Regions from separate parts of the Homo sapiens genome. Here region 2 is linked to region 1. The links come from fine-mapping of genetic effects on gene expression. Tissue or cell type: pituitary. Region 1 holds a variant in brackets; the other region holds the start of a gene. All regions are shown on one strand. Distances are from middle to middle.

Region 1 (4,397 bases):
CCCCTATCAATATTTTATAGTTTTCAGTGTAGATGTCTTGCCCATCTTTCACTGAATACTTGATGTTATTTGATTTTGTGGATTTTTAAATAATTTTCAAATTGTTGCTATTTAGAGAAATACATTAGATTTTTAAATATTAGATTTGTATCTAGTGACCTTTCCAAATTCATTTTTTTATTTTAATAGATTTTGTAGACTTGTAAGGAGGAATATTTATGTAAACAATCATGTCACGTACAAGTAATGCTTCTTCCCTTACAGTCTGTATTTATAGATTTTATTTCTTTTCCTTTCCTTATTGCATTGACCTCCAATACAATGTCGAATAGAAGTGGTGATAGTAGTTATTTTGTTTTATCCCATAATTCAATAAGAAGTGTTCAATATTTCACCATTAAGAATGCTGTTGATTATAGGTTTTTTATAGATGCGTTTATCTAGACTAAGGAAATTCTCTTTTATTCCTAGTTTATTGATAATTTTTATCATGAATGGATGTTGAATTTTGTCAAATGCTTTTTCTTCATCTGTTGAGATGATATATAGGTTTTCTCTTTCATTTAGTGAATGTATGTGTTCAGCGGATTGTATTTTCCATTGTTAACCTTTGTATTTCTGAAATAAATCCCACTTAGTTATGATATATTATCCTGCATGTTATGATATGATATATATAGGATTGTATATCTGATATACATATAGAGAGAGACCTAGATTTAATTTACAAATACTTTGTTAAAGATTTTGGATGTATGTTCATGAGGGATATTAGTCTATAGTTTTTTTTTCTTGTAACTATCTTTGTCATGTTTTGGTATGAGGGTTATGCTGGCCTTATAAAATGAAATGGGAAGTGTTCCCTCTTCTATTTTTCAAAAGAGGCTTTGCAAGATTTGTTATTATTTCTTCTTTAAATATTTGCTAGAATTCATCAGTGAAGCCAGTTTAGGCCTGGGATTTTCTTTGTGGAAAGATTTTTAATTGCAATTGCAATTTTTTATTATGTATGAGGCTCTTCATATTCTGTTTTTTTCTTGTGTCAGTGGTATTTTTGCTTTGTTTTGTGTTTTAAGAGAGAGACTCATATATTATGTAAATAATGGAACAAACAAACAGATTTTTTAAAAATCATAATTAAAATGTTAAAATGTAAAAAAGATGAACAAAGTGTAAGAAAAAATAGTACCCACAGAAATATCTATATAAAAAATTAAATGGACATCTTATACCTAAAAAATACAGTATTAGGAATAACTCATTGCATGGGTTTAAGGGCAGACAAGAGCCAACAGAAAGGAGTAATAAACTTGATGAAAAAATAGAAAATATCCAAAATAAAGTACAGTGAGAAAATACAAAAAAAATTTAGAGCATTAGAGATAAGAGATAGAGCCTGTAATCCAGGCTGAAGTGCAGTGGTGTGATATAGCTCACTGCAACCTCGACCTGGGCTCAAGCGATCCTCTTGAGTAGCTAGGGCTACAGGCACACACCATGCTCAACTAATTTGTTTTTGTAGAGATGGGGTCTCACAGTGTTGCCCAGGCTGGTCTTGAGTGACATTTTATCTCAATTTTCATATTTAATTGGCATAAAGTTATTCATACTGTCCTGTTCTCTACCCAATGTCTGATGGATCTATGATGAAATTGTCTCTGCGTATTCTATATTTATTAGGTATATGTATCAGTTAGGTTGGTTGGTTAATTGGTTATTCATGTTATTAGTTTTCTTTTGGTTAGTGTTTATAGAGTACATTATTTTCATCTGTTTGCTTTTCTCTTCCTGTGTTTTTATATTTTGAGTGTCTTTGTATCTCAGGGCCCTCTTATAAACAAATATAATTGAGTTCTGGGGGTTTTTTTTGGTCTGGTTTGTTCATTTATTCCTACTGACTGTTTTACTTAATCCACCCTTCTTTAATAAAATTATTTATTTGGGTTTAAGTCAACATTTTGCATTTTGCTTTTTTGTTTTCTATTTGTCCAAGTTCTTCCTTATTTCTTTATTCCTCCTTTCTTGCCTTCTTTTGGATTAATCAAGTATGTTTTATTATTCTACTTCTCTCCCCTTAGCTTTTTAGTAATGCATTCTTATCCCTGATAATTCTTTAATTAATTGCCGTATGCAAATATGCATATTGGACTTATTAAAATCTACCTTAAATAAGTGCTCTAACTACTCCCAAATAATGCAAAATTCTTAACAAAGTTTGGCTCCATTTACTCTCCACTTTCATCCTCTGTGCTATTACTGTCACATAACTTATTAATACATATATTATAAACGGCACAAGCCATTTTTATTATTGTTTTAAATAATCAGTATCCTTTTGTATCAACTCACATGTTTACCCTTTCTCGTGTTCTTCATCCTTCCTGTAGTTTCATGTTTCCATTTGGAATGTCCTTCAGCCTGAAGAACTTCCTTTTCATTTTCCATAGTTAGGTCTGCTGGTGACAGATTCTCTCAACTTTGATTATTTGAAAATCTCATTATTTTACCTTTATTTCTGAAGGATATTTTCACTGGGTGTATAATTCTATCTTTGGTAGTCTGTTTCTTTTAGCCCTTTAAGGATACTATTCTACTTCTTCTTGCTTACA[C/A]AGTTTTATTAAAGAGCCTGCTATCACTCTTATTGTTGCTCCGGTAATGCTGTTTTTCTCTCTGACTGCTTTTTAAAATATATCTTTGTATTTCCTCCCTGTCTTTTATTTCATCTGTATTTCATCTTTTGTATTTTCAGCAGTTTGACAATTATGTGTTTTGGTATCGTTTTCTTTGTATTTTTCCTGCTATGGATTGCTGAATCCATAAGCATCCTGAATCTGTGGGTTGATGTCTTTCATTAGTTAGAGATTAAGTCTCCGCTGTTACCTTTTCATATATTGCTTTTTCTTCATTCTATCTGTCTTCTCCCTGTGGGATTGCAGCCACTCATATTTTGGACCTATTGACTGTGTCTACTTAATCTCTAATGCTCTAATATATTTTTTCATATTTTCTCACTGTACTTTATTTTGGATGTTTTCTATTTTTTCATCAAGTTTATTAATCCTTTCTATTGGCTCTTGTCTGTCCTTAAACCCATGCAATGAGTTATTCCTAATATTGTATTTTTTAGTTATAAGATGTCCATTTAGTTTTTTATATAGATATTTCTGTGGGTACTATCTACCTTTTCTTATATTTTGTTCATCTTTTTTACATTTTAACATTTTAATTATGATTTTTAAAAAATCTGTTTGTTTGTTCCATTATTTGGATAATATATGGGTCTCTTTCTATTGCCTGTATTTTCTCTTGATTACTGATCACACTGTTTTGACTCTGTTATGTCTAATAATTTTTGTAGTATGCCAAACGTTTTATATTAAAAGAACTATTGAGGCTCCAACTGGTATCTTCCATGAGAAAGAATTCTTCCTTTCCTCTGCTAGACTAAATAGGATAGGGCCTGATCACCTCAATCTAATTCTGGATTGAGTTAGACCACATCTGGATTGTGCCTATGGTTTATGCTTGTTTTTTGGACACGGACCCTCTTGGGCTCTTGGTTGGGAACCTAATTTCTAGCTCCTTAGCCCTGAAACACTGCAGGAGATTGTCCTACCCTTGAGAGGTCTGGGGCTTAGTTTTATTACCTCTCACCCCTTATAGTTTTAAAATATCTTTAAGAGGAGATCAGCCATGTATTTGGGGTATACTACCTACTTCTAGTGGAACCTTATCTCCTAAAACCACAAGATTATAGGAGATTTTATTCTGCCTTTTAAAAGCTCTCAGTCTAGCTTTGAAGTTCCAATGTGCTGGCCCAAAATTCAGCAGATACCCAATGAGAAAAACTGGCCACATGCAGGGGCTCCTTAAGTTTCCAGTTTGTCGCAGCAGCTCTCATTTCTCTTTCCTCCAGTAGAGCCCCTCACCACATGCCAAGCCTGATCCTTAGTTTATGCCAAAATTAGCAGATGCCCTCAGGAAAGAAAACAGTATCAGCTACCTCAGAGGCCACCCCTTGGAATTCCAGTTCATCTAATCCTCATGACAGCTCTGTGGTGTCTTCCTCATGACAGCTCTGTGGTGTCTTTTTAAATAATTACTCTGACTTTTTCTAGTTGTTGCATCGTTAACATTGTACTACCACAACTATCACTTCCTACCTGGAGGCCTAGGAAGTATTATCTTCTACCTGCCCTATATAATAGTTTATTAACTGGTCTCCCTAATTCTACTCTCGTCCCTCTCACAAAGCAGTCAGAGTGGTCCTTCTAAGTATATCTTGTCCCTCCCCTGCTCAAAACCCTCTAGTGGCTTCCCTTTATATTTAGAATAAGTTCAGTTCATTTTCACAGGCTGCAGTCCTACACAATTTTACTGCTACTCACTCTCTAACC
Region 2 (4,397 bases), 64 kb after region 1:
TCCCATACTCCGCGGGTAGGTGGCTGGTGGGAAGGAAGAGGCCCAAGCTCTCTCCTTTTAAAAATCTATGCAGTGGCCAGGCGCAGTGGCTCACGCCTGTAATCCCAGCACTTTGGGAGGATGAGGCGAACAGATCACAAGGTCAGGAGTTCGAGACCAGCCTGGCCAACATGGTGAACCCTCGTCTCTACTAAAAATACAAAAATTAGCTGGGCATGGTGGCGGGCGCCTGTAGTTCCAAATACTCGAGAGGGTGAGGCAGGAGAATCGATCGAATCTGGGAAGCGGAGGTTGCAGTGAGCCGAGATCGCGCCACTGCACTCCAGCCTGGGCGACAGACCGAGACTCCATCTCAAAAAAAAAAAAATCCTATGCAGTATCCTCCCTTCAGGGGTGCCTGAAACCCCTCACCCTCTACTTGGGCAGTTAACACACTCGATCTTGAGTGAGGGAGCAGAGAGACTGGAATGTTGAGATGTCACCAGAAAACCCCAAAGACTATACACTGCATTTTAGGGGAGGCCCTAAAGCGGCAGAGGGGGCAAGACACAGTCCCAAGGAAGAGCTTTTTCAAGAGGGAAACAGAGAATGGAGGACAAGGGACCAACAGTGAGGAGGCACATGGCCTGCCCAGCACGGAGGAGGCTCCCTTCCATGGCTGGCAGCCGGCAGCTTCCCTCAGGCTGACACGGTTGAAGGTGGCAGCAGGCCGAGGGGCCTGACTTTTCCCCTAGCTGAGAAAGCTCTCAGGCTCCTGGGCTTTGCCTTCCTCCCTCAGTTTGGCCCCAGGTGGAGGACGGACAGGCCCGAGACCAGGCGGGCTTGGCCACATGCTTTTCCCATGTCCCCTCAGAGGTGGCTGGTGGAGCTGGGCAAGCTGGAAGAGAAGATGAAGGCGCTGATGATGGAGAAGGAGCAGCTCCAGCAGCAGCTGCAGCAGCACGGGCCTGTGTCCTGCACCTGCTGTGTCCTGTGAGGGCCCTGGGGAGCAGGCAGGACGGCACGGCACTCTCCACCTGAGACCCAGGGATTTCCTGTTTGAGTGTAAGGCCAACCAGTAAAGCCCATGCGGGCTGCTGAGAGGCGGACAGGGACTCCTTCAACATGGCACATGAGCAGGCACCCATGTGGCTTCAACCCTGACAGACCCATCTGTGTAGCCAAGAAACTGCTCTCAGCCCTGTCCCCAAATGACCTTACTTTCAGAAAGAATGTGTAAAACCCTGCCCAGAGCTCCCCTAGGGCTAAGCTATAAGGGATTGTCCTTCTCCCTAAAATGCTCATTTGGCCCAGGCTGAGGTCTGTGACTCCAGTTGGCTACACAGTGCCAGAAAGGAATCTGTCATCTCAGGAAAGCCCCTCAAAGATGGCGAGGCATATTTGATGACTGTGGTTACAGGGCAAGAGGCCACCCTGCAGCCCCCACCCCTGACTTGCTGGAACTTGTGACTGTCAAAGCTCCATTAATAAATTACATGCACCTGGGACAAGAATGGTTCTTTCTAGGACACTGGGTCAGCCGGTCAGATGCTGCAGGGTCATGAGTCCCAGGCCCAGCCCACCTCTGTCCAGGAGGCAGAGGACAGACCTGCAAGGGCAGGGAGCCCAGCCCCTCAGACTCCAGTCCAGCTCTGTCTTAAAGACCAGGGACCGTGGGGCAAAGTGCTATGCCTCTGTGCTTCAGTTTCTTCATCTATAAGACAGTGACAATGGCCAGGGGCATTTTGTCACCATCGGGCCAGTGCCCTGTGTCTACGCCAGCTGTGGCACAGAGCAGCACCTCACACTAAGGGTCTCAGTTCCTTTCCAAGACCCCTCTGGTCCAGTAAGACCGTTAGCTTAAAACAAACAAAAAAAACCAGACTCCTCCAGCTGCTTCCTGCCTCTGGCCGTTTCTCCTGCTGTCTCCACCAGCTGAGCCAGAGGCTGCAAAGCCAGAGTCTGATCACACTCACGCCACACCTGCACCCATAGCCCTCCAAATTCTTCAAGAGCAAAGCCCAAACTTGATGGCCTACATGGTTCTCCACCACCTAGCCCACCCAACCTCAATGTCTTCCGCCCCTTATGTAAGCCACTTCAGCCACGCCCACCAACTTGTTTCATTTGCACTCCTGCCTCGGGGCCTCTGCGCTACATAGCGGCCTATTTCCTTTCCTCTTCACCTTCAAGTCCATGCTTAATTTCCCACCCACCCTATTTTAAAGACACCACCTCCCAGCACTGCCACTCCCCTGCTCACTTCCACCCCTGGTCTCCATCTATGAACTACCACACTCTGTAGCTTATATTTGGTGCTTCCCCCACTGAATAACTGCTCTGGGGGACAGGGGTTTGGGTATGGCTGGCATATGGTAGACACCCAATAAATACCTGCTGGTGAGACAATTAAGGATACTCCTAAATTTGGGGTCTGAGCCACCAGAAAATCACCAAACCTTGTTGAACAGGGCATTTCACAGGACTAGTGTTCCACAGAACACACTTCAGTTGATCCCCTAAAACTTGAAGACCCTGGCCACATCCACAGCAGACACAGATGAGAACTTTGGAACCCCCAGCCCCTCCACTCACCAGCCAGGTGACATTTTCTGGGTGATCACAACTGCTCTGAGACCTGGTTTTCCCACTTAGCAAAGAGCACACAACCCCTGCCTCGGCTGCCATTCATGCTGGTTAGGGACCAATGTGATCACAGACACCTATATGGTGGCAGGTTACCAAACTCCTGCTGCTCACCCCCCGAGCTGCCCCAAGGTCACCAAGACTGTTTGAAAACTACACAAATGTGTTACTCAAGAAGGAGGAGTGGCATTTCTGAGCACCTTCCACGGTCCAGGTACCATGCTAAATGCTAGTCCAGGCACCACAATCCTCGGAAATGTTTTTCGGGGGAAAAGAGCAGATTTCTACAAAGGAAGGGTGAAGTCAGGCTTCAGCCCAGCTGCTCCAGACTGCTAAGAACTGCCCAGATCCCCTGGACTGAAGGGAAGTTCCCTGGACTGAAGGAAGTTACTGAAGGGAAGTTACACATAGCTGTGCCTATTGTTAGGTCACATTAAGAAAGGAACGAGGAATGTGACCAGCTTTCCTCCCCATGAGGGAGAAGCCTCCGGGGACGGGTCAGTAAACACTGGGCACAGGTTGCCCTCCTGTAAATCCAGCTTCAGCCCTATCCTGTCTGCCACAGCCAGCGTGGCGGGGCTGCTCGAGCTTTGCAAGCTCTGGAGAGCCATCTGGGATCTCTTTTTTCAGAAACCTTACATTATGTGGCCAGCACTTGACAAGTGATCAGCCAAAGTGATCTTAAACATAGGGGCAGGAACTTAATTACTGGGAGGCTTTTTCACACCACCCACACACCCAGCCATTGTGGGGGACCATGATGTCAACAACGGGCGTGTCAGACCCTCAGTTTGGGGAATGTTTGAAAAAAAACGGGCCAGACGTGGTGGCTCACGCCTGTAATCCCAGCACTTTGGGACGCTGAGATGAGCAGATCACGGCCAGCCTAGCCAACATAGTGAAACCCCATCTCTACTAAAAATACAAAACAATTAGATGGGCGTGGTGGCAGGCACCTGTAATCCCAGCTACTTGGGAAGGTGAGGCAAACAGAATCACTTGAACCTGCGAGGTGGAGGTGGCAGTGAGCCAAGATCACGCCACTGTACTCCAGCCCAGGCAACAGTGTGAGACTCCATCTCAAAAAAAAGACTATTGACCAGGTGCAATGGCTCATGCCTATAATCCCTGCACTATGGGAGGATCGCCTGAGGCCAGGCGTTCAAGACCAGCCTGGCCAACACAGCGAGACCCTGTCTATTAAAAAAAAAAAAAATTTAATTAGCTGGGCGTGGTGATGTGAACCTGTAGTCCCAGCTACTTGGAAGGCTGAGGTGGGAGGATCTTATGAGCCCAGGAGGTCTGCAGCAAGCCGTGCTTGTGCCACTGCACTCCAGCCTGGGCAACAGAGTGAGACCCTGACTCAAAAAAATAAATAAATAAATAAATAAAATTTAAAATGAAGACAATCTCCTGGTACCACCAGGTGGGAGAAGAGGTTAGAATTATGCTCAATCAGCCACGTTCAAAGTACCATAACAAGCAGTTCTGCTGGTGAAGACAGTCTGGCCCACTGCTCACTGGCTGTGTATATGGGGTACCCACGTCCAGTGCCTGGCAGAGGAAAGGACCACCTTCCTAAATCATGCTTATCCCTCCCCTTTCTCAGTCATAAATAGCACCATAATAGCACCCATGCACCTTTTCATCTCGCTCTACATGCTGAGAACCTGTATTTGAAGCTTTATGAAAAATTCTGGTTCCTATTAAAAAGAAAGCCTCATTTCTTAGTTTTTAAACAAACTCTCAGGTTGTCTGCTGAGTCAAGGCTG

Which allele goes with the higher level. Positions count from the first base shown, and alleles are read on the strand shown. Sizes are in standard deviations (SD) of each study's normalised expression.
For the expression in pituitary of the gene that starts at base 2,492 in region 2, allele C in region 1 goes with a higher level than allele A (small effect, 0.31 SD a copy in GTEx).

The links. PIP is the estimated chance that this variant, and not a neighbour inherited with it, causes the effect.
Region 2: SLFNL1-AS1 starts here. The variant in region 1 is the best candidate, but not a certain one, in a credible set for the expression of SLFNL1-AS1 in pituitary (GTEx, PIP 0.78).

What each region holds. Positions count from the first base shown.
Region 1 is chr1:41,076,820-41,081,216 of GRCh38, reverse strand. All of the region lies in intron 8 of SCMH1 (Scm polycomb group protein homolog 1), which reads left to right. Among named protein-coding and RNA genes, the nearest start is that of SLFNL1, 57 kb to the right of the region's middle. The variant C/A (reference allele first, on the strand shown) is at 2,610.
Region 2 is chr1:41,012,685-41,017,081 of GRCh38, reverse strand. It overlaps SLFNL1-AS1 (SLFNL1 antisense RNA 1), which reads right to left and starts at 2,492. Exons shown (of 4, transcript NR_037868.1): 1 at 1-2,492. SLFNL1 (schlafen like 1) reads left to right here. Exons shown (of 6, transcript NM_144990.4): 6 at 854-1,485. The coding sequence ends at 976.